Linked DNA regions of Homo sapiens: all the other regions are linked to region 1. The links come from fine-mapping of genetic effects on gene expression. A gene starts in region 1. Each other region holds a variant in brackets. All regions are shown on one strand. Distances are between the middles of the regions. Region 1 holds the start of LINC01948 (long intergenic non-protein coding RNA 1948). Region 2 has its middle 68 kb from the start of LINC01948. Region 3 overlaps LINC01948 (long intergenic non-protein coding RNA 1948).

Evidence for each region.
Region 2: its variant is fine-mapped to the expression of LINC01948 in whole blood (INTERVAL, PIP above 0.99).
Region 3: its variant is fine-mapped to the expression of LINC01948 in whole blood (INTERVAL, PIP above 0.99). The same link has a PIP of 0.9 or more in unexposed skin.

The regions. Positions count from the first base shown.
Region 1 is chr5:56,478,492-56,486,675 of GRCh38, reverse strand. It overlaps LINC01948 (long intergenic non-protein coding RNA 1948), which reads left to right and starts at 4,907. Exons shown (of 5, transcript NR_104664.1): 1 at 4,907-5,123. RefSeq lists enhancers at 4,979-5,138, 6,339-6,508.
Region 2 is chr5:56,409,971-56,418,154 of GRCh38, reverse strand. No RefSeq gene overlaps it. Among named protein-coding and RNA genes, the nearest start is that of LINC01948, 68 kb to the left of the region's middle. RefSeq lists an enhancer at 2,771-2,820. The variant T/G (reference allele first, on the strand shown) is at 4,245.
Region 3 is chr5:56,450,005-56,458,188 of GRCh38, reverse strand. LINC01948 (long intergenic non-protein coding RNA 1948) reads left to right here. Exons shown (of 5, transcript NR_104664.1): 5 at 246-394. Among named protein-coding and RNA genes, the nearest start is that of LINC01948, 28 kb to the left of the region's middle. The variant C/T (reference allele first, on the strand shown) is at 3,211.

The DNA.
Region 1 (8,184 bases):
AGCCTTAAACTTTGTCCCTGGCCCTTCTGGCTTCTACCACCTCTGACATCTGCTGTCAGCCTGACCTCTGCCAGGCCTGGCATCCATTGACTCTTCTAACAGTGCTCTACTTCTTTCAGGGGCAGTGGAGAGGAAGGTTCCATGGCAGGGAAAAACTTTGAATATAGAACTAGGGGACTGGCCAGGGCTTAAGTTCTGCATCTACTACCGACCTAGGAAGGTAACTGTCTCTTTGCCATTTGGGACTGAATTCCCTCATCTGTAAAATGGGGAGGGGAAAGTATTAGAGTAGGTATTACTGAAGCCACATCTAGGCCCTCTTCAGACTAGTAACTTCTTCCCTATCTAGGTCCCCAGCACCCCGAATTCACCAACTGGGAAGCTTCATGGCTTTATAGCCTAGTGTTACTGGTTTTCTGGAGAATGAAGGAGAAAGACAAATGCAAAACAGCATTGCAAGATGAATATCCCAGGCCTCTTGAACTCGCTAATAAAATAAAATCGTGAATCAGTCTCTCTCACCCAGTCCCCAAAAAAAGAACAAATCTCTTTTGAACTTCCTGCAGTGGCAAAGAAAAGCCTTTACCTTCAGAGCCAAAGCTATTTGTATACTGTCCCAGTGTCCTTTCACCCAGAGCTCATCGCACAGACAACAGCAAAGGCAAATGAAAAGACAAGCTATTGTTTTGTTGTATTTATATCCTGATGTAGGAAACAGCACAAAAATACCATCAAGGAAACTCAGTAAGTCTCTGCTCTAGGGTATGTATACAGTTTTGGTGCCAAAGGTAGCCGGGCCAGATGTTGGAGGACATGGTCTCCCTGAAAGAACAAAAGAGAAGCATGTTGGGATTCTACAAGGGAGGAGAAGAGCCAGAAGTAATCACGCAGGTGCCTGCCCAGTAAGCTCTTTCAGAGGCCTGGTGGCAGCCTTCTCTCTGGGTGTCAATCCAGACGCTGCTGCCTGACAGCTATAAGGTCTTGGACACAAATGTTATCTCTCTGTTCCTCAGTTTCTTCATCTATGAAATGAGACTAATAACAATGCCTAGTTCACAAGACTTCAGTGGGAATTAACAACTTAACATATATAAATCACATAGAACAGTGCCAGGTATATACGAAGCACTCAGTATTAGTGAATGTTCTCATTATATATATATGTCTAAGAAGTTCTGTGATCCCAGAGCTATAATTGTAAAACTTTACTGCCATTTTAGGGAGCCTGAGGTGCAGTTGAATTATTGTTGGCTCTGATACTGGACAAACTTGGATTCTGTTACTTACCAACCCTGATCTGGGCAAGGCTGCACCAACAGTGGGGTCAAAGTGGCTCAAGGCTTAGGATTGCTCAGAAATATTGTCCTGCTCCAGGGAATCTAGGGATGCTATATTGTCTAGACTTGTGGGACCCCCTTTAAGCCTCTTTCTTCCATCATCATAGTCATCTTCACTATCATAAGTTATCATTCTCATTATCATCATTATTATGATCAACTAGTTAGCCTCTTTCACTTACCTTAATGTTTTGTAGGTTCATTTATGTTGTATTTTATATATAATATATGTTGGATTATAGTTTGTATCAATACTTCATTCCTCTTCATGGCTGAATACTATTCCATTGTATGTACATACATTTTATTAATCCATTCACTCATTGATGGACAATTGAGCTGTTTCCACTTTTTGGCTACTGTGAACAGTGCTGTTATGAATATTGATGTACAGATTTTTGTTTAAATATGTTTTCAGTTCTTTTGGGCATATACCTAGGAGTGGAATTTCAGGGTCATATGGTAATTCAATGTTCAGCATTTTGAGGAACCACCAAACTGTTTTCCATAGTAATGGTACCATTTTACATTCAGCAGGACTTTGATGTTAAAAAAAAAAAATAGTCCTGGTGGTTAGAATTTTCTCCTTCCTGACTCAGTGGAGTGGAGGAACTGCCCAGTGGATGGGAGGGACAATAAGTGGGGGCCTGGACCTCTCTGCTGCCTCATTAATCCTCAGTTGTAGGAAGGCACTAACTGGGCTCTCTGCAAAGCACATTTTACTAAACTAATGGGGAAGCAGGAGGGGGATGGGAGAGAGGTGGACAGAAGACTCTGGAAGTGACCAAGTCTAAGCAAGAAGCCATTATATAGACCGTTATGTGTAGACGGTCTTGAATCCTAATCACTTTCTTCAAACAGAACCGTGGTATTCTTGTGCATTTATTTATGGTAGTAATTGCCCACAATCTTGGTGTCTGATGTCCTATAGCAACTTGAAGGGGAGCGTGTGTCAGAACCCCTTTAGAGGAGCAGGGGCCGATCAGGTTTTCCAGGAGCACTTGCCATGGAAGCCAACAGGTTGGGCAAGGAAGTTACTGGAGTGTCTGGAAGAGCAGGACATTAAGGGAAAGCACAGGGGGTTGGAGCCAGGGAGGCTCCGCCATTAGATGGAGAGAGGCAGAGTGCAAGCAGGAAATAGAGCAAGCCATTAGGAGTCGGAGGCCAGGTCTGCAATCCTATAAGGCAAAGACAATGGGTTCCGCAAGAGGCATTGACCATGGATGGGGCTGGGTGGCCAGAGCTCATTATTCTTACGGGTTGTCCCATTGGCTGTGAGGACAGTCAGAATGGAAGAGGCAGAGTCTGGGCAGGCAAAGAACAGCCTTTCTCAATAGGTTTCGGAGATAGCTTATTAAATGTGTGTTCAGGGGATTTTTAAACTTCACCCAGATATCTTTTAAAATATATTGATATCAAGAATATATTATAAAACCTGAACCCTGGCAAATGCAAAGTCTCCCTCCTTTGAAAATAGTCACCATAGTTCATGTTCTGTCCTGTTTTTTTTTTTAAATATATAATTTCAACTTTTATTTTAGATTCAGGGGTACATGTGCAGATTTGTTACATGGGTATATTGTGTGATATACATGTGATGCTGAGGTCTGGGGTAAAATGATCCTGTTACCCAGGCAGTGAGCATAGTAGCCAATAGTTATTTTTCAACCCTTGCTTCCCTCTAGTATCCCCCAGTGTCTATTGTTGCCATCTTTATGTCTATGTGTACCTAATATGTAGCTCCCATATATAAGTGAGAACATGCACTGTTTGGTTTTTCTGCTCCTGCATTAATTTGCTTAGAATAGTGGCTTCCAGCTGCATCCATGTTGCTACAAAGGACATGATTTCCTTCTTTTTTATTGCTGCATAGTATTCCATGGTGTATATGTACCAGTCTTCCATTGACGGACACCTAGGCTGAGTCAATGTCTTTGCTATTGTGAATAATGCTGTGAAGCACATAAAAATGAATGTCTTTTTGGTAAAACGATTTCTTTTCATTTAGATATGTACCAGTAATGGGATTGCTGCTGGGTCGAATGGTAGTTTTGTTTTATTTGAGAAATCTCCAAACTACTTTCCCCAGTGGCTGAATTAATTTACATTCCCACCAGCAATGCCAGCAATGTATATGTGTTCCCTTTTCTCCACAGCCTTGCCAGCATCTGTTGTTTTTTTGACTTTTTAATAATAGTCATTCTGAGTGGTGTGAGATCTCATCGTGGTTTTGATTTGCATTTCTCTGATAATCAGCAATGCTGAGCATCTTTTCACATTTGTTGGCTGCTTGCATGTCTTCTTTTGAGAAGTGTCTGTTCATGTCTTTTGCCCACTTTTTAACAGGGTTGTTTGTGTTTGTGTTTTGCTTGCATAGCTGCTTTCCATGTTCTTTTCTATGTTATCTAGAACTATAATAAAAGTAACTGCCCAGCTCTTTGGGAGGCTGGGGCAGGCGAATCACTTGAGGTCAGGAGTTCAAGGGTAGCCTGGCCAATATGGTGAAACCCTGTCTCTATTAAAAATACAAAAATTAGCCGAGTGTGGTGGCACACACCTGGATTCCCAGCTACTCAGGAGGCTGAGGCAGGAGAATTACTTGAACCCCCAAGGCGGAGGTTGCAGTGAGCCCAGATCGCACCACTGTACTCCAGCCTGGGAGACAGAGTGAGACAGCGTCTCAAAAAAACAAAAAAAAAGGAACTAGGTCTAAGACAGGGTACCCAATCTATTTCTAAGAAGATGCTACTTCTCATTTTCTGGAAACACTGTAGCAAAGAGGAAGGGACAATAATGTCCCATAGTGGGTGGGCAGATATAAAAACCCCAAGATGTTCATTTCAGGCCCAAAGTGACTACTGCTTGCTACCCTCACCTTTCTCTGCTGGAACACTACCAGCCCCTGTGAGATGTGGGTGATCTCATGGGTGTTTGGAAGAATCCCAGTACCAGGCTAGGGGATCATCAAAGCTGACTGGATCAGTCCTGCTAGATCAGGAAGCCTTACTGAGTAAGGCTAATGCCAGGTCTCCAAACTGCCACTGAGCATCAGGGGTCCTTCCCACAATATCTTTGTTTCTCTAGGTCAAGAAATGATGCCGTCCCTAGAAACAGCGCAATGTTTATGTAAGAGTCAACTCAGAGACCTTGTGCCGGTACAAGAGGTACTATCTCATCCTGCTCCCCTGCAGGCACTAAATGAGACAAAATTCCTTCTGGAGTTCAAGTCCAGAAGGCTGACTATGCTGTTAATGGCAGTATACTGAGTTAAGAGAATTCGGGGAGACGGGAATATTGGGTCCACGATTCTGCCTGGAGGGAAGAATTGTGGTCTCCTCAGTCCTGTGGAGTAGGGGTCCGGGCTGATGATAGCGCCTCCTGGTGCAGAGTATACAAACAGCTGAAGATCTGCCTGGACCCCCTACCCCTCTCTTTTTTCCTTGTGGAAACTGTGTATAATTTGGAAAGAGCAAGGACATCCTGGCTCGCAGCTGGCCAGCTCCACCTGCGACCTGGACAGCCTCGCCCCTCCCTGCGGAGCCAGGCGAGTTCACAGGGCTGCCTCCGCTTCTTGCAGCATGTCTGCTCTCCTGGCCTGGCCTCTCCAGACCTTTCCCTCCACGGGCAGCGATTTCCAAGGCTCTCAAGACTCCAAACCACGTCGTTTTGGGAGTGAAAAAGTGAAAGCACACATCGTGTCATTAGAGCAGCAGGGACCAGCTGCTGGGTCAACACTTCCGAAAACAGCGCTTCCTGGGGAGCGACCGGAGCATCTCAGAATCTACGGTTTGACCTCCTGCCAATTCTCATGGTGTCTTTATACATTTTAACACAAAAATAAGATGTTTTCACTTGAGAGCGAGAGGGAAATGAACTGTTAAGGTGCTCTGTCGCCAGAGAAGTGAAGTTGGGGGGTAAATTTTAGGAACCCCCGACCCCCCTACCGAGGGAGGATGCGAAGTCGGCTCCTGAAACGCGAGCGAAACCCCCGCGCGCTTCCCGGGGTGACGCACATGTCTGTGTTTCTTTTTGCTTTTGACCAAAAGTCGTAGGGAGGGTCCTCCTCAGGGGACAGTCGCGGGCGCTGTGCCAGTCCTTCCTGTCCCCCCACCAAAGTCAACCCCAGCCCCAGGCCAAGGCCGCCCCGGCCGGAAGAGCCAGCTGGTGGGGGCCGTGGGGGGCGCGGCGGGCGCGCGGGGCTGGGGGCGGCGGGTCCGCCTACCCCGCCTTCCTGGCGTGGAGAGTTTCGGCCCCAGCCTCGCTGGCGTGGACTCTGCCTGAACCACGCCTGGGATGCTTTTGCCAAAGGAAACTTGGGGGGTGGGGGCGGGGCGGGCGACGATTCCCCCCCTCCCCACCCCGCCCCTGTCCTCCTCGGCCGGGAGCCGCGCTGGGCCGGGGTCAGCTGGCTGCCTTTGTGGCCGCTTCCCAGGAAGGAAGAAGCGTTGTCTGCAGATCAGTTGATCCGCGGGCTTTCCTGTGTCGGAATGCCGCCGTTTTCCGGGGACGGCTGCCACCCCCGTGATTCCCAGCCGGGGCTGCCGGCCGTGCGTAAGAGCCGGATAAATAGGCCATTGTGAGGCCGTTCAGATCTAGGTTTCTTATCACAGTATCCACCAGCGAGAAGCAGATTCGGCCCCTGATGGAGCTCATCCCAGCTTCTCTTTTCTTTCTCTGCACAGTTACAGCCATTTCTATTTTTTGCAGTTGTAAAGGGAATATTCAGAAAGCAATTTATTGTGTGCGACAGGGACTTAAGGGAGCGTGTCTGCAGACCGTGTTCCCACCGGGGTTGGGGTTCGCAACCTTGAGTTTAGCTCGATGGGCTTTGGTGTGTGAGGTTTCTACCCGCCCATCGCCCAAGGCAGGCACGTCCTTAAACACCAGCTGCAAGTATCAGGAGGGCAAGTCCGTAGGTCTCTAGATCCAGTGGGTTGGCTTTTTGGTGTTTGTTTTGTTTTGTGATAGCCTTGATCTGCTTTGTGGACACTGAAAATTTGAAGGTCGAGGGAACACGAGTTAAAACAGGTCAAATGAGGGAGGTTCTGAGGAAGGCTGGTGGTTTGGGAAGAGCTGATGCTGATGGTGTTGAGTGTCTGTTTTGTTTTTGTTTTTCTGCTGCAGCAGCCGCAGGGCTGTGGAGGGGTTGGGGTTTCCTGGTGTTTGACTTATTGGATAGTCATTGCTTGGCATGGCTGGGTTTTTGGGCCTGTGACCTGTGCTCAGAAGCCGACGTGTGCTTAGTTGGATGCTCTACTGACACCATGTTGACATGCTTAATAATTTTTGAAAAGGACCCTGCATTTTCAGTTTGAACTGCACCCGGCAAATTATGTAGCCAGGGCTGTTAGTAGACTCTCAAATTCATTTGAATAAGCTTGAATAACGGTTTGAATCAGTTCCCATTTGAGATAAGGGCCTGTGGTTAGTCGATAAGCTGCTGAAGGTGATTCTCTTAGTTTTCAGAGTATCTACTGTGGCTGTGCTGACGGATTAGAGCACGTTCCACAAACTAAACCAGGCTGCCTGGCATCGTGGGCATCTGCAGGGAGCGGCACCAGCCCCCTGCCAGAACAGAAGAGTGCAGCCAGGCAAGATTAGCTTCGTTCCGCCTGCTGAGACATCATCCTTTAGAAAGCATAGAATGTGCAGCCCTCAAAAACCTAGTGATTTCCTTAATAAGATGCTTATTTGTGCAGTTATTGCTTCTCTTTTCTTTTCCACTCTGAAATGCCTGGCTTCCAGGGTTGAAAGTGGATTCATCCTACCAAAAATATTCTATCGTTTTTGGGCACTGTGTTAATACTTCCAGCACCTGCTAAGGACTGAATGTTTGCATCCTCCCAAGATTCAGATATTGAAAATCTAACCTTCAATGTGATGGAATTTAGAGGGGGGTCTTTGGAGAGTAATTAGGTTTAGATGATGGCATGAGGGTGGGGCTCCGTGATGAGATTAGTCTCTATAAGAAGAGAAAGCAAAACTAGAGCCTTTTCTCCCTTCACCTGCATGAGGACGCAGCAAGAAGGTAGCTATCTGCAAGCCAGGACCAAGGCCCTCATCGGGAACAGAATCTGCTGGCACCTTGCTCCTGGACTTCCCAGCCTGCAGAACTGGGAGAAATAAATGTCTGTTGTTGAAGCCATCCAGCCTACAATATATATTCTGTTATAGCAGCCTGAGCTGACTAAGACAACCCCTAAACAACTCTTGAGAAATTACTCTAAATCAGGGACTTTGCATTTCTCAGAGACAGGGGAAGGGAAGTTGGCAATAGTTCATAATAAATAAGGAAAATGCTATCTTTTTAGAAATAGTTTGTATAAGATACAGTTGTTTTGGTTTAATGCAAAAAATATTCCCTTCAAATGAGTATTTGTTTACTTGCTTACTCCTTCACTCATTAATTTATGGCTTCACTTTTCATTTACTCAACAACATTTATATAGGACAGGTAATAGAGGAGACTTTGTGACATTACAGTAAAAGAGAGAATTCCCTGCCCTGGAGAGGCTTTGGAATAGTGGAGATATAAAGAAATAAAGAATACAATGGAATGTTACACGTGCTAAAATAGCTACCTATCAGGATATTTTAGGGCCACAAAAGGGTTATTTGAATCACTTCCATTTGCTCATCATTAATGAATTCCCTAGGTTATTTTTTATAAGCCTTATTATTATTATTATTAAGGTTTTTTTGAGACAGAGTTTCACTCTGTGGAGCTGGAGTGCAGTGGTGTGATCTCGGGGCACTGTGACCTCCACCTTCTGGGTTCAAGCAATTCTCGTACTCAGCCTCCCAAGTAGGTGGGACTACAGGTGTGCACCACCATGCCCAACTAGTT
Region 2 (8,184 bases), 69 kb after region 1:
CCTACTTGACCCCGGGCCAAATTCTAGAGACATAAACATAATAAAACACAGTCTCTACACTCAAGCTCATAGTGAGGAAGGCTACTGAAACTATCCACACCCTAGGAGTGGACGTTGTAGTTAGAGTATTTATGAAGTTCCTTTGTAATCTATGAAAATGCTAAGTAAATATGAAGACATTTTGAAACAACCACAAAACATTTGTAAAAAAAAAAACAACTTTATTATTCAAAAACGTATTTTCTGATCTTTTTTCCTTAATTTTACCTCCAAGGGGTTTCAGACTCCTGAGTTCCTCTTACCCAGTGGAAGAATGGCCAGCTCAGATGGTTGGGAACATATCAAACACTTTCTAGCATGTAATATCCACTCAACAATTTTTGTTGAATGAATGAAAGCAGGCAGAATTTGAATAATAAACTGAGATGGAATAGGGCATAGGAAGACAGGATATGGAAATGGAGTTTCATCGAGAGTAAATATACACAGCAGAGGTTTTCCTACTTTCTTGGGGTCATAATCCCCTGAGAAAAATCGAAACCAATTCCGATTGCTCCAAACATTTTATGTATCAAGCAGAGACTTTATGATATAGGACCTTGCCAACATTTCAGGACAGGTTAAACAAACAAACAACAACAACAACAACAAAAAACAAAACAAAAAACCACAACTTTTATGTCTGACTTTCTTTTAGGAAAGATACTTCTAATTTTTTCTTCCTTTTTTTTTTTAATTGTAGGATTTCAGATGCCTCATTCATCGGGCTCATTCAATATGCTCTTTTTGTTGTACAGGTTACATAGGCATCTCAGAGGAGATATTTAGTTGGATGAATAAATGGATCTAGAAAAATATCATCTTATTTTGACAAAGGAAGAAAGGTGAGAAAGGCAGGGAAGCTCAGGGAAACTGATGCTAAGAGGGGCCTCAAGAAAGGTGAGATTTACCATTCGTGGCCATACCAAGGAATTTAGTTACAGATAGATCCTTCTATGGGCACAGTAGCTGGCACCTCCACTAGAACAATTATAATCATTTCTGAGCATCAATCTCCTAAATTATAGAGATGCATAAAAAGATTAGATGAACTCAGTTTTCTAACTTCAGTAGAAATTCTTTAAAATTTGCTACTTATCTCTTCATATGGACGCCACAAGAATATAGCTAACAGAGATTAAATACTTGGAAAAATTAAAAGACCTATTCAAATGTATCCTATTTCATTTAAGTACTAGTTTGTTCTTCCTTTCTTGACTCCAAGTCAGCTCTCAGTAGAAAAAATGGTCTATGAGAAAAGAATGTCACAAAAATGTCAGCTCCAGATCTAAGAGGAGTCTGAATAAGTTCAAGCAGCAAGTCTAAAAGAAATTAACTCCTCATCCCCTGCTTCCTATTCCCTTTTCTGTTTTATTTTGACAGGCATCTGTGTGGATGGGGTACCTTAAGTTTGCTGTGGTAAAAATATTGTGATAATATCATGTTGTGTGTTCTCTTGCCCTGCTGTGATGGTTAATACTGAATGTCAACTTGATTGGATTGAAGAATGCAAAGTATTGATCCTGGGTGTGTCTACGAGGGTGTTGCCAAAGGAGATTAACATTTGAGTCAGTGGACTGGGGAAGGCAGACCCACCCTTAATCTGGTGGTCACAATCTAATCAGCTGCTGGCTAATTTTCTGTCTGGCTAAGCAGACAGAAAAACGTGAAAAGGCAAGACTGGCCTAGCCTCCCAGCCTACATCTTTCTCCCGTGCTGGATGCTTCCTGCCATCAAACACTGGACTCCAAGTTCTTCAGTTTTGAGACTGGGACTGGCCCTCCTTGCTCCTCAAGCTTGCAAATAGCCTATTGTGGGACCTTATGATCATGTTAGTTAATACTTAATAAACTCCCCTTTATATATATAATATCCTATTAGTTATGTCCCTCCAGGGAACCCTTACTAATACACCTGCCAACATAAGAACCAGAAGGAAGAAGTGCAGACGAGCTGGAAGAGTAAGGTGCATGAGTAAATATGAGCTGAGCTACTCAGAATTTTGACAGGACCAATAATTCCTGAAACCTTTGATGTCTGTTTTATACATACACACACACACACACACACACACACACACACACACACACACACTGACCTCCCACAGTGTGCCAGTTAAAACAATGAAATCCCAGAAGAGTTAACTTGACCGAGTCTGAGAAAGCATTACTAGATATCTAAGGACAAAGAAAGAACAAAACTATTTTTAAAAATCTGAAAATGTTAAAAGCTCCAAGAAAAGAGTTAAGATGTGTCTTAAGAATTCAAAAGCCCTCAAAGCTAGCAGATAATAAAGAGAAGAGTGAGTTGACAGTGACAACAAGGCAAATTCTGGCCTTGAATTGCAATCTTTAGGTTCCAGGCTTAGGACTCTCAGAAATTTCATAGCTCCTTGGTTTTGAAATAATGTAAACAATGGCCTAGAAAGACATTCCTGAGAAGTAGACTGGACTGCAGATAAGAAGCTGGACCCAAGGCTCAGGCTGGTGTTAAGACTGTGCAATCTACTTCTCTGTGAAACTTTCTTGGGGGTGAGAAGTTTAGAGTCAACAACTGGAAGAACTCTGTAGAGAGGCGTGGCCCAATTGCTGCTTCCTCTTTTCTCCTGGGGGCAAGTTTCATCAGTCTCAGAGCCCTGCTGTTTGTCATGGGAAATGGGGTGATGGCTGTAGTTCCTGTCTCAGTCTTATTGGTCGATCATACCCTGTCAGCGACCTAGGACATGGTAAGCACTCAAGCACACCATAATTATTTAATATTGATGCAGGGGCTGCCACGACTTAACAATATATTAATGACCAATATTTCATTACTGTGGGTTTGGGGACAGTCAGCCTTAATAGCAGGAGGCTAAACCAGAGTGACTAAAGAGCATCAGAGGATTTCGGATAGCACAGGCGGCAAAGGTCCATAGTGAGACAGCCACGGGGCAAAGGCAACTGGCTTTCTTTACTGAAGAACTACTTTGTGTCGGAGAACCTACTATAAGGAGTTATATTAGAGGTGAAGTTTCTCATGCATGGAGAGACTAGGAGTGATGGTTGACCCCAATATCTTTTTTTTTTTTTTAGAAACAGGGTCTTGCTCTGTGGCTCAGGCTAGAGTGCAGTGGCATAATCATAGCTCACTGTAGCCTCGAGCTCCTGGGCTGTAGGGATCCTCCTTCCTCAGCCTCCTGAGTAGTTGGAACTACAGGTGTGTGCTACTGCATCCAGCTAATTTTTAAAAACTTTTTTTGTAGAGACAGATTCTCACCCCCTTGCCCAGGCAAGTACAGAGATCCATGTACTGGCGCGGTGGCATAGTGGCTCATGCCTGTAATCCCAGCACTTTGAAAATCCTAGGTGGTAGGATTGCTTTAGCTCAGGAGTTCAAAATCAGCCTGGGCAACATAGCAAAAACATGTTTCTACAAAAAATATTTTAAAATGTAGCTGAGTGTAATGGTGCATGCCTCTGGTCCCAGCTACTCAGGAGACTGAGGCCAGAGGATCATCTGAGCCTAGGAGGTCAAAGCTGCAGTAAGCCATGATCACACCACTGCACTCCAGCTTGGAAGACAGAGCAAGACCCTGTCTCAGAAAAAAAAAAAAATGTTTAAAGAAGACAATTAATTTAGATATTTCAGGATTCCCACAAAATATCAGCAGCTAATAAAATCCTGTGCTAGGCCTTACCAAGACAAAATAACATTTAGCCCTATATTTGATGCCTCTCCCATAAAGTCTCAATTTTCTATTGCTATTTAAAAAAATGATGCCATGAAAATACAAAGCAGCTGAAATGAATTATGAGTCCTTTTCGGGGAGGAGAAGGGGGAAAATCTTTCCCCAGGGGCACATTTTTTAAAGTTCCTCTTTCTATTTGAAATGCTTCCTGACTTGAAGCCTTGCAAGAATTTCACAATTAGATGGGTGCAGGGAAGAACAGTTCTGCAGAGTAGCAGAACATTTCTTGCAAATTAAAAAATTATTTGGTTCTGTCGCTAACCTTATTCAAAACTCACTCAATGGTTTACAAAATGCCGGTTCCTCTTAGTTATTTCTTATCAGTGTTCTTATGCAGAGAAGTGTATAAAATACACTGTATAAAATTATGAATGCTAATTGCAAGATTTTCAGGTTCTTAATATTAACAAAGATACATCATAAGCCATCTTTGTTAATCAGCAAATTAAACCTATTACACCAAGTCGACTTCTAAGAT[T/G]TGTCAAAGTATAATTATTTTTAAGTTAAAAACTTAACTCTCATAAAACATATAGTGAGCAGATGTCAAAGATTTATTTAACTCAACGAGAGAAGAAGCAGAATGACAAAGCTGGAATAAAGAAGAGTATGACAACCATCACGTGGATAGTCATTGGAAGTAATTCTGAAATAAGAGTGCAAAGTTAGACACCAAACTGGTTAATGTCCTACAGGGCAATAAAGCCATAACCATCGGGGTTACCCTTTTTTTTTCTGGACAGATGTCTTTAGCAATGTAACATTTTCTATGGGATAACATCAAACTTTACAGAGTCTGGGTCCTAATTAGTAAGACACACAATGTTACCTCCCCCTAGAATATCAGATGACTTTTGGGCAAGCAGATTAAAAGGTATGCATTCATCTTTTTTCTTTATTTTCAAGATTTGGATAACTCTTCTTAATGGATCTTAGAAAAACATGCAGAAAAACCCAGAATTCTCCAGGAAGAGTCCAGTGTTCCCATCTTTATTAATCTGGCTTAGCTGGCATTTGTATTGTCACGGGAGAGAGTCGGGATAAGGACAACATAAATAGGAAAGCTTGATCAAGAATTCCCTTACTTCACAGTTACTGCCTAAATGCAGATATTAATACTTAAAGTCAGCGGATGTGAAACTAAACAGCAAGCTGAGCCCAGCCCCTCTCACAGTTTGCTGCTGTCTCAGGTCTCCTGACATGACAGTGCTCACGTCATTTGCAGCCAGAGAAGCCCCAGCCTCACCCAGCACCCTCCTCAACCCAGTGCTTCTCCCATCCACTCATTTCCCCACCACCGGGGACCCAAGCAGCCTACTTCCTCTGAATTACCATGCTTATCCTCACTCATATTTTGGCTTTGTTTCACTGTTCCCCTGGATTTTATGGTTGCATTCATACTGCAGTATAACCAGTATAAATCAATACTTAATGATTTCGTATTTTTTCGCACACTTTTTGTGGACAAAGCCCAGTGACAGGTCTCTCTCATCTCTTTCTTTTTCAGTTCACACCAGCACCTGGCCTCATTGTCACAGATATATCCACAAGGGCTTAAATTCTTATAATCTGCTAATTCTTTCACAGTCTGTCTACGAGGCAGGGCACACCCGGACAACTTGAACTAGAGATCAGATATGAGTCTCTTTATGAGGAGCTTAAAATAAAATAGGATGGAGAAAAATAGAAAAACCAGAAACACTGCCCCACCTTTGTTTTTTTAAGCCACTGCTAAAGAGCCTGCATACAAGTTAAGCTTGTGAGACAAAGTTTAAACTCAAGATGTGTGCATTAGGGGGCAAGTAATTGGTACCCACTGGGTTGGGCCTTCTTGGAGTTGGTAGCTTTTCATACCCACTGGGAATGTCTTGTCCCTTTTTCACAGCCACCCAGATCTTATTTTCAAATTTTAAATCTCAGTTTCCTAAGAAGCTTCCAGTGGTTTTCCATCCCACAACCTCCTATAGCACTCATGGTAGGAATCAGTTGTCTGGTATTACACACATGCCATATGTTGCCAACATCCTCTAAGCTTGAAGCATGGCTCACAACTCCTAAGCAGGATAGCAGGGTTTGTACAGTCCTGGTTGCATCTTGTACTTCTTTATATATAAGAACCCTCATAGCTCTATATTGGAGCTCAATACAAATTGCTTATTTTTTTGAAGCTAGGCCTGAGTTGAGCTATTAGGAAAAGAAGGATGAGGTTTGGACAAGTGAGCAGAAAAATAATGAAGCAAAGGCATAGAGGTAGAGAGTGTCTGGAGGAGGTTAGGCGTGGCTGTGCAGAGTTGCAGTAGAGATCCACTTATCCTAGAAGGAGAGTCAGCCAGAATGTGAGAAAGGAGGAAGGGTAGCTTAAAAGGGATCTCAAGAGCTTGAGAGAAATGTCATACTCTGCTTTATAGCACCTACTAATGTGTTAATGAGCCCTTAGTCATGTTTAATGAATAAGCAAATAAGTGAGTGAATGAATTAATGAATAAAATATTTTTAAATCTCTCTCTCTCTGTCTCTCAGTTTTAATTCATTTCAACCTCGCTTTAGTCAATGCTATACTCTCCAAAATAGTGTGAGAGGCTTCATGGTTTTCTGTTAAATGATATAATAGACAAATTTCACCATATAAAATGGGATAAATATGCGGTTTTTAACCCATGCATTGATTTTTTTCTTTTGGTCTGACATTATTATGTATGTACAAAGTCCTTAGAAAATATTTCCTAAGCCCCTCAAACTATAAAGCTGGCAACGCAGCACCCAGGCTGACTTAAAATAGCAATCTGATTAATTATATTGCCTTGAAGCAAAGATGTGGCTAAAACACTGATTAGTTCCCTTTATTCCAAAAATCAGTTTAAAATTTTTAAAAAGTAGAAATAATTGAGTCTGAAATGTTCCTAATTCATGCAAGGAAAATGCTTTTAAAAAAAAACAAAAAATCTGTAGGTTTGGTTTTTTTAAATTAAAATGATGGGTTTTTTCCCCTCAATTTTACCGTAGAACTCACACTTATAAACTTCTAGGAAAGAACCTATACTCCGAGGAAATATTTCAAAATCATTTAAAATTAGATAAAAATCAGCAAGCGTAAAAATGTCCACGTGACTGTCTGAAAATACAGTTCCAATGTTAGGATTGAAGGCATGATGATTTTTTAAAATGGCACAGAGGAAGCACATTATTCAGTTACTTAGTGATGTAAAGAGGACTTCTCCTGATCCTTTAAGCTCATTTCTATAAAGTTGACATTTTAATTGGTTGAAGTCAGCCCTGTGCACACTTCCAGGCAGGCTGAATGGTAAGGTGTCGCCAATAAAATGCATCCCATGACCCCTGGAACAATATAGGGTACATAGGTAGGTCCTCAATTAAAAATCACTAAAAACTGAATACATGTGATCCAAACATGGAGAAATAGTGGCAACAAGATTGCCAGACACAGTATGTGGAGTCGGGCAGGCAATGGCATGCCCTTGTTATGCTGGTGTCCTCTATAGCACTCATATTCTGTCATGTATGGTTGGGAAACTTCACGTGTGCACAAACCATTTCCTAACCCAAGTTTCAGGATCCTTGAAGTCAAGGCCAGGTTCCAGGCCTCCTCACATTTCCCACCATGCTCAGCAAGCTGGGAGGCGAGCGGGCACCCACCTGCAAGCCAGGTTCAGTTCTGCCTCTGGCCAAGCACCGACTGCCCATCTCCCCAAGTCCCTCTGTAGTCATGAGACGGGGGCTAAAAGGAGGATATAATTAAAGGGTCAGGAAGTAAGGAGAGAGTGTGGTGTAAACTGAGGAAGCAAACAGGTCAGGACAGTAGGTCTGAGGGGAAAAGTCACCTGGGCCATTATACTATAACAAAATGAAAATCTAGATGCTTTATTGTTCTCAGTAGTTTAAAAAAATATGTTTTGGGAACAACTATTTTTATAGAGATGAGAGGGGAAACATACACTAGAAAAATCTTTCTCATAGGAATGAGTTTGTTTGTCCTTTTTAAACAAACAAGCCAACATGAGTTAGTAATATAATCTTGCAGTTAAAAACCAACAAATCTCCACCAAAAAAAAAAAAAACAGCAATATGATATATTTCTGTCCATCGTTTTAGCCCTCTTGGGTGACAGAGGAACCAGCTACCCAGAGAAGAAGACTTGGGGGAGTGGGTAAGGGTCTCCCCTCATCCCAAGGACAGCATCACAAGGGGTTCAGGGTGAAGGGAAACAGGAAGTGGAGGCATTTTCTGTCTTTTCAAACTGGGCACTTCTCATCTGGTCCAGCTCTTTGGCAAAGAGAAGGACACCAACCGGGACCTCGCAGTCCCTCGACTCAGCACAAAGCTTCCTTAGATTAGTGCCCAAACTAATTTTTATGACATGTCATTCCAGTAAGGGCACGGCTGCATTTCACAGATGGGCTTCC
Region 3 (8,184 bases), 28 kb after region 1:
GGGCTGTCTTTAGGTTGGGAAAAGCTTTTAGGATTTTACTGCATGGGACTCACTCAGCTTTTGCTTTGTCTACTGCTAAAATAATTGAAACGTGAATCAAATACTAAATATAACCCAAAATATCCTGGATACATAGTAAGCTTTGAGAGCATTAAAACATGACTAAGCCCTTTGCTCCTTTTTCAGTGAACCTGTTGACATGAAAGGGAGCCACTAATACCATCTTTTTCTCCCCTCTCCTCCAGGTCAGTCCTAAGCAGCACAACCTTAGCCACTGTGGAGCTAGTGCCAGCTGTGTGAATCTGTACAGTGGTGCAGTGTTAAGGGCAAAGAGCACTTTGGAGCCAAGGCAGACAAAACTGCGCAGAGCTCCCAGGCCTGGGTGATGATCCCTCTTCCCAGACATCTGAGGAGTTGCCATATTGATGTTCTCTCATTGTTTCGGCTGAGCTGGAATGATCGAAATAATTCTGGGACTATGACAAGTCTCACCAGACCTCGTTATGGATCAGGGAGAGGTGAACTTTAAAAATAATCAAGTTCAAAGGAGAGCCCTGTCACCTGTGATCAGTTTCGTTAGCAGAATCCCACCAGCCTTGCTCCCCATATCCAAAATGCACTCACCTCCCACAAGGCCCTTCCCTGCTCTTGGTTGGAGCCTCTGAGTTCAGACACATGCCTGAAGTTAGTTTCTCTGGACTGGGGAGCTTTCCCATTGCTTCCCAAGGACCTCCTAATGGCAAGTGATAAAACTGATTGGCAGGTGCGTGAGAGAGTCATAGTCAACTCATGGCATGAGAAACAGAAAGTTGATAAAGCAGAGCTTTTCTAGAGATTGAGCTGAAAACTTTTTATTTGGGAAATATACAACGTAGCAGAGAGCTGTGCTATTTAAAACGTAATGGGAGGTCGAGGTAGGCATATCACTTGAAGTCAAGAGTTCGAGACCAGCCTGGCCAACATGGTGAAACCACATCTCTACTAAAAAATATATACAACAATTAGCTGGGCATGGTGGCAGGCACCTGTAGTCCCAGCTACTCAGGAGGCTGAGGCAGGAGAATCGCTTGAACCCAGGAGGTGGAGGCTGCAGTGAGCCGAGATCGTGCCACTGTACTCCAGCCTAGGTGACAGAGTGAGACTCCGTCTCAAACAAAACAAAACAAAACAAAACAAAACAAAAATGTAATGGGCAGGCTATCTGCCTGGAGACAAAGTACATGCCCATTTCTGAGAACATTATTTGTCCTGGAAAGGTAGTTTCATAGTGGGATTCTTCTTCCCTGCTTCTTCCTGGGTCCCACAAGGTTGATCTTCCTCCATACCTTTCTTTTGTTCCCTAACATTTTACAGCATTGATTTTCTAACAAAAGGAAGGAAAGTTCCTAGGGAGGTATATCAACATTTCTAAAAGGAAATGTATGTATACTTTGAAAATACATATTTCACATTATAATAGAATTTCATAATTTAGAAATGAAAAGTACATCACTCTAATTATATTTCTCTTGATGAAAGTAAAATTTGACAAGTTATCTCTGCTGACAAGAATCTGCATCAGTGAATCTGCAAAGAGGGCACCAGTTAGGGGTGGGGCCTCATCTTCCTAGATGGCTCAGGTCTAGAGCCTGTTGGCTGGTCAGACATAACATTTTTATGTTTATCAAATAGGAAAATGATTTTTTAAGGACCATCTGGGCACAGGTAACAGGAGATGCTTGTATCTCTCCTGTAGGGTCAGTCTTCAGGAGACGGAGCTGAGACAGGAGTCCTACTGGCAAGGTAGGAGCAGCACACTAGGGCTTTATGGTCCAGGATGCTTAAGAGAAAGAGAAATGTACGTGAAGACAGCCTGGCATCCACTACACAGGCCCTGCCTTCACCGTGTGGATGTAGTTGCCCTGAGAGTGGACAGAGAAAGAAGAATGAGAGCAGTGAGTCAGCGAAGGGCCTCAGAATGGGGATCTCAGGACCTTCAGAGCTGGCAGCCATGTGGCTGCCTCAGGACACAGTCATGCAGCACGTGGTGTCTGAGGGGTAGACAGTGATTACCTCCTAATCTCCCACAGATGGTGCCCTGGGCAGGGGTGGGGATGAGGACCCACCCAAGCAGGCACCTAGAAGAATTTGATCCTGGAACTCTTAGCAGGGAGGCAGTTCTGTGTAGGCAACTTCATGGCATCACCTCTGCAGGGCCTTGTGACCCTACCCAGGGTTATTAGTCCCACATTCTTCAAGAGCAATGGCTGGAGAATGGCAAGAGTTGAATGGGAGTGGGGACACAGAGACATTGTTAGGACTATAGCAAGACAGATCTAATGCATGAGTCTTACAGTGAAAAGAAAAGAAAGCCCAGTGAGCAGTGCCAAATGCCACAGAATCAAGTGCCTCCCTGCTGAAGATGGGACAAGTGAGGACAACCAGGGCACTGTTTTGGTGGAGGAGCTGGAAGGACCCTGGGTTGGTGAAAGAACATGACCTTAGCAGAGGCCCATCACGTTAGGAAGGGGCACCAAGCTGCAGAACAGCAGGATGGGCACAGCTGGCACAAAGCCCATCCCAAGGCACAGAGAGAGAAGGAGGGACTTGGGGCGTTGCAGTCCAGTGAGTTCCCACTAGGGAACTCAGCACTTAAGACTCCTAGAGTATGGTCTCTCAGGCTGATGGACAGGAAGCCTGGAGATGGGGCTAAGTATGTGGAACAGGGACAGAAACCTCAAGGGTTCCCGAGAAACTGGGACAGGCCGGACAAGGCAAGATGCTCCCCACTTGTAGGTCCAACAAGAAGCACGTTCTTCCAAAGATTTAGGGTGTTGTGAAGGTGGCAGAGGGCAAGCAGAATACTCCATTTTAAAGAACACTCAGCCATATATTAGCAGAAGTGCAAATCAATCTTTTGGAAACAGCATCCCACCTTCCTCGGACATTGATATTTAAGGCAGGGACTGCTATGACATTAGCCAGACTATCCACACACCAAACCAGGCTGTCCCCGAGGCTCTGATTCACAGCTATTTACCAACACCCTGAATGTGTTATCTGAAACAGCAATCAGGAGAGAAGGCTACACGAAAATCTAGACAGGTCGCACCTTCTTCAACGTTTTGAATTGCAAAGTAAGAGGTGACACCAGCCCAGGGAGGTGTTGTGACCGTGGAAGGAGAAAGAATGAGCAATAATCTCTGGCACACCTCTGGGCAAAACGCTAAG[C/T]AGCACAAAAAGTGCGAGAGCATAGGACACATGGAGAAGAGAAGGTATGGAGCAGAAATGGCATTTCACTGGGAACTGGGATAAATAGGATCTTTCTTCACTCTAACTAGCTTGGTACATTTGGGAAAGTGATTTAATGTCCCTGAGACCTGGCTTCTTCCCTTGTAGAACATGAGAGTTGATGCAGGTGTTCCTTGGGATCCTCCTCATCCTAGTATTCTGTGAACGTGGGGGTCTGGGTAGTTCACAGACTGGGACACCCTCTCCCAGATTTTCCAGAGTAAATATTACTCCCCTGATGCAGCCTCAGCCAATAGCATGATCCTTCCCATCTCAGGAAATGTGTCCAATCAGAAAACATAGAGGGTGGATCCATCGGTGAGAGATCTTGCCGAGCGGTGTCAAGACTTCCCCGTGGCCCTATGTTTACCATGCATTCGATTCTCGGTGTGGTCCGGGCCTTTCTCACCTCATCCATTTCACCTACCAAGAAAGGAAATGACATTCATCCGGGCTGGGGCACTATTGCGCAACAAAACAAGCCAACCTGTAATTAAGGAGAACTGAACGCTGATGCTGAGCCCAGCATCTTGGGGAAAGACTGCTGAGAGTTTCGCTTGGCTTTGGAATTCATTTATCAGATAACATGCGCTGGATTGACCTAAACTGCAACATGGCCCTTGTAATTATACCGTGCTTTTGCTTTGGAGCCTGAGGGAAATGTGGAAGGCGCTGGAGTCTGAGCTCTGGGTCACCTGAACGTCCTGTGATTATGCCCGGTCTCACATTCAAAAGGAGAGATGGGAGTGTTTGTATTTTACCCACAGCAGCAGACTCAGCTCTAGGATATGTGGGGTGCATGTGTCTTCTGTCTCTCCTGGAACTCAGTATCTGTTCATTCATTCATTGAGTACCTACTGTGATCAAGGCACTGGATGGGGCACTATGACAATTTCTCTTTTGGTATTTTTTCAAGATTTGTTTACTTGATCTTCTAGCCCAGGGGTCAGCAAACCACAGGCCATGGGCTAGATCCAGGCCTTTGCCTGTTTCTGTGCAGCCTCAATAGTTAAGAATTTTTACATTTTTAAATGATTAAGAAGGAAATCAAAAGAAGAACACTATTCTGTTACACAAGAACATTGTATTCAATTTGAATTTTGGTGTCAATAAATAAAGCTCTATTAGAACCCAGCTGTGGTGGGCAGAATTCTAAAATGTCCCCCAGGGATGCTCATCCTTGTTTAATCGCCTCCCTTTGAGTGTGAGTGAAACCTCTGAATGTACTGAAGTATCACTCCTGTGATTTATGTTACATTTTATTGCAAAGGGAATTCTTGCAGATGTCATTAAGATTACTAATCAGTTGACTTGGGGGCTCTTCAAAAGGGAAATTACCCAGGCGCGCCTAACCTAATCATACTAGCCATTTACAACAGGGTTCTCTCTTGCTGGTAGCAGAATAGAAGTTAAAGAAACATGCTACAGCTGACCAGGAAGAGAGCAAACATCTGTACTATGAACTGCCCAGAGGAGCCCTGAGTGTGGCCCTGATGACAAGCAGCAGGGAAACCAGGACTTCAGTCCTACAACCCCAAGGAGATGGATTCTTCCAACAACCTGAATGAGCTTGGAAGCCCCCAGATAAGAGCCCAGCCAGCCAATACTTTCATGTCAGCAGCGTAAAACCTAAGTGAACAGCTCAGCTAAGTCCACCCAGACTTCTGACCTACAGAACTAGAAATAATAAGTGGGTGTTGTTTTAATTGACTGAGTGTGGGGTAATCTGTTCTGCAGCAGTGTACTGACAATACAGCACAAATGCACATGCATGTGCACATGATCTGTGGCTGCTTTCACGCTACACCAGAGAGTTGGGTCGTTGCAGTGGAGACCTTATGGCCCATGAGCCTAAAATATTTATTACTGAGTCTTTGAGAGAAAAGGTTTGACAAACTTGTTCTCTAACCATAGAAGTAATCTCATATCAGATGTATTTTGTGAAGGTTTTGTGCCTTACCCAAGGCTTGCAAGAAACAGGACTTACACCCAGGCACACTCAGCAAACATTGCTTCTGTCAAGCTGAATTAGCTCCAAAAAATTAGTAGGCACCAGGCTGACTGCAGACCTACTCTCCATTCCAATTTTTAAAATGTTAGGGGGAGAAAGAGTGTGTGTGTGTATTTATATTGTTGAGCAGGGATAAAAATATCAGAGGAATATGTACCATATGTATTTTAGAGGTTGTCATTTCTATATTATGAATTTCAATAATAGTTGAATTTCGTGTCATGAATTTGTGTTAGTAATTATTACCTTATTATTTTTAAAGGCTATTCTGTGCTCCATGTGTGCTCCTTGGTGCAGTGGCCTAGAGAAGAGAAGGTATGAAAATTGTTGCTTTGCAATCAGAATTTGAACTCACTCCACTGTCTTCTTGACTTCTTCTGCCTTCCAGATGCCCTTCTGCTTTCACAGTGAGATGTGTCAAGATAATCCAATTCTTCATTCACTAATGATGGTTATCCAGGAGAATAATTTTCAATCACTTTCGAATTAGAATGCCCTTTCTCTTTCTGTCATACACACACACACACACACACAAATTAAAAGATTTGGAGAGGCTGAGGCAGGAGGATCACTTGGACCTGGAGTTCAAGGCTGCAGTGAGCTATTATCACATCACTGCACTCCGGTCTGGACAACAGAGCAAGACCCCATTTCTACAAAAATAAAACAATTAAAATGAAATGTCTGGCATGGCGTGTATACAGCTTTAAATTGGGTTAAAGTCCATATGACTCTAAAGACTGGAAGAAGGAGCTGAAGAGGGTTTACTGGGGCTAGTCTAACAAATAGCCACAAACTGGGTGACCTAAAATACAACAAAAATTAATTCTCTCACAGTTTTGGAGGCCAGAAGCCTGAAATCAAGGTGCTGGCAGAATCAGTTCCTTCTGGAGGCTCAGAGGGAAAACCGATTCCACGCCCTCCTGGCTTCAGGTGGCTGCTGGCAACCCGTGGCGTTCGTTGGCTTACAGCTGAATCACTCCAGTCCCTGCCCGTGTCTTCACCTGGTCTTCCCCCTCCTTATGTCTGTGTCTCAGATCTCCCACTGCCATTCTCTTTTAAGGACTGCTGTCGTTGGATTTAAGCCTATCCTAAATCCAGATGATCTCATCCCAAGATCATTCCTTAATTACATCTGCAAAGGCCCATTTGCTACATAAGGTCACAGTCAGAGGTACTGGGGTTGACGGCTTGGACATATCTTTTTGGAGGCCACAATTCAACTCACTACAGCAGGTATTTAGTATGTTCCTGGAGCTGATAGGGAAACCTTTCTCAATCTCCTAAACAGCAATTGAAATAAACAAATCTGTTCTATATTATACTGCAAGTTTTTTTTTCTCATGGGGCTTTATAGATACTTACATCCCCTCACACACCCCCAAACCCCCATGATCTTGTGATTATAGATTAGACATTTACTCTGTGGCAAGGGAGATACTGAAATCTTCATCACTCACCTAGATGGGTGCCCCTGCCTTATCTTGCTCTTTTTACCTATCTGGACAAAACCCAAAGTAAGGCAACATTTAGGAGATACATCAAAAGTCAGGGTACTAATCCACAAGTTTTAAGTCCAGGATTGAATCCCACTGAGACTTTCTGTGAGTGGGAAATTCTTTGTGCTTTCCAGCAGAATAGTATGGATCTCTCTGGAAATAAGTCCATGCCACTTATTGTCCATTTGGCCTTGGGAAAATCCGATGCTGTGATCTGGTTTCTCTCCCTGTAAAGAAGACATAACAATACCTTGCTACCTTACCAGGGTGTTGTGTGAATTTGCTGACACCCATAAAGCTCCCTGAAAATGAAGAAGCTTACATAAGTCCCTGGTATTATTCACACAGCAAACGTTTTCCCCTGAGAATAAAGTAATAAATGGTACCATTGTGCAGCTGGTGGAACGTGTTCAAAAGTTTCCGTTCACAACTAGTAGATCAAGTTGTGGGTGGCTGTATGGACTTTCTGTGCTCATGCCAAGCTTCATCCAAAACAGCCAGCACGACAGGCTATCTCGGAATGAAAAGCTGTACTGTAAGAGACGGCCAGATCATGGCATCGTATCACACAGGACAATCACGTGTAGCCAGAGACTACATAGGCACTTTTCCTCACAGCAGGAAAGGAACAATGGCAGAAACATTGGCCATATGGATTTCTAACATGGCAGCCTTTGAGAAGCAACTACCTTCTTCCAGCACGTTGACATACTTCCCAAGGCTAAAGATGCTCATGATTGTGAAGAATTATAGCTTTCTCTCTGCATTCATGGAGAAAAGCAGAGTTCTAAATCAGATAGAGTGTTCAGGTGAAAATCTATTCTCTTTAAATACAATTCATCTGGGTGGGAGTGTGTGGGAATTGTTTGGACAGAATGCTACTGGCTGGCATAGGATACAGGAGAGCATTTCTTTCTCACCATTATAAGCCCTGGAAATACCCCAGCACATGATATAGGGAAAATGTCTTTTCTCTTTTAGCAAGGTTTGGGACTCCCAGCCTTTGGATGTCACATCGAGAAGATGACAGATATTTTTAATTGAATGAGAGGAAGATTAGCTACTGAAGATTTTTTAAATGATCATGTTTGATTAGAGTTACTTGGGAATTAGACTAATAAGCTCACAGCTGGTCAGAGGGGATCAAGGTACTCCTTCAGTGGTAAATATTCTCATATTAAAAAGCTGAGGCAGGATTACACAATCATGGAATTTTTGAGCTGCCATTGATTTACCTGGATATTAAACTATTTGGTAACTTTGCAAATTCCATGGACGTGCTAACATTTTTTCCCTCTTTCTTTCCAGTGGCAACAATGGGCAAAACCTTGAAGAAAGTTAATGAGCTTAAGACAGCAAAAGTGGAAAAAAAAATCTCTCTAGGTGTTTAATATTTGAAGCTGG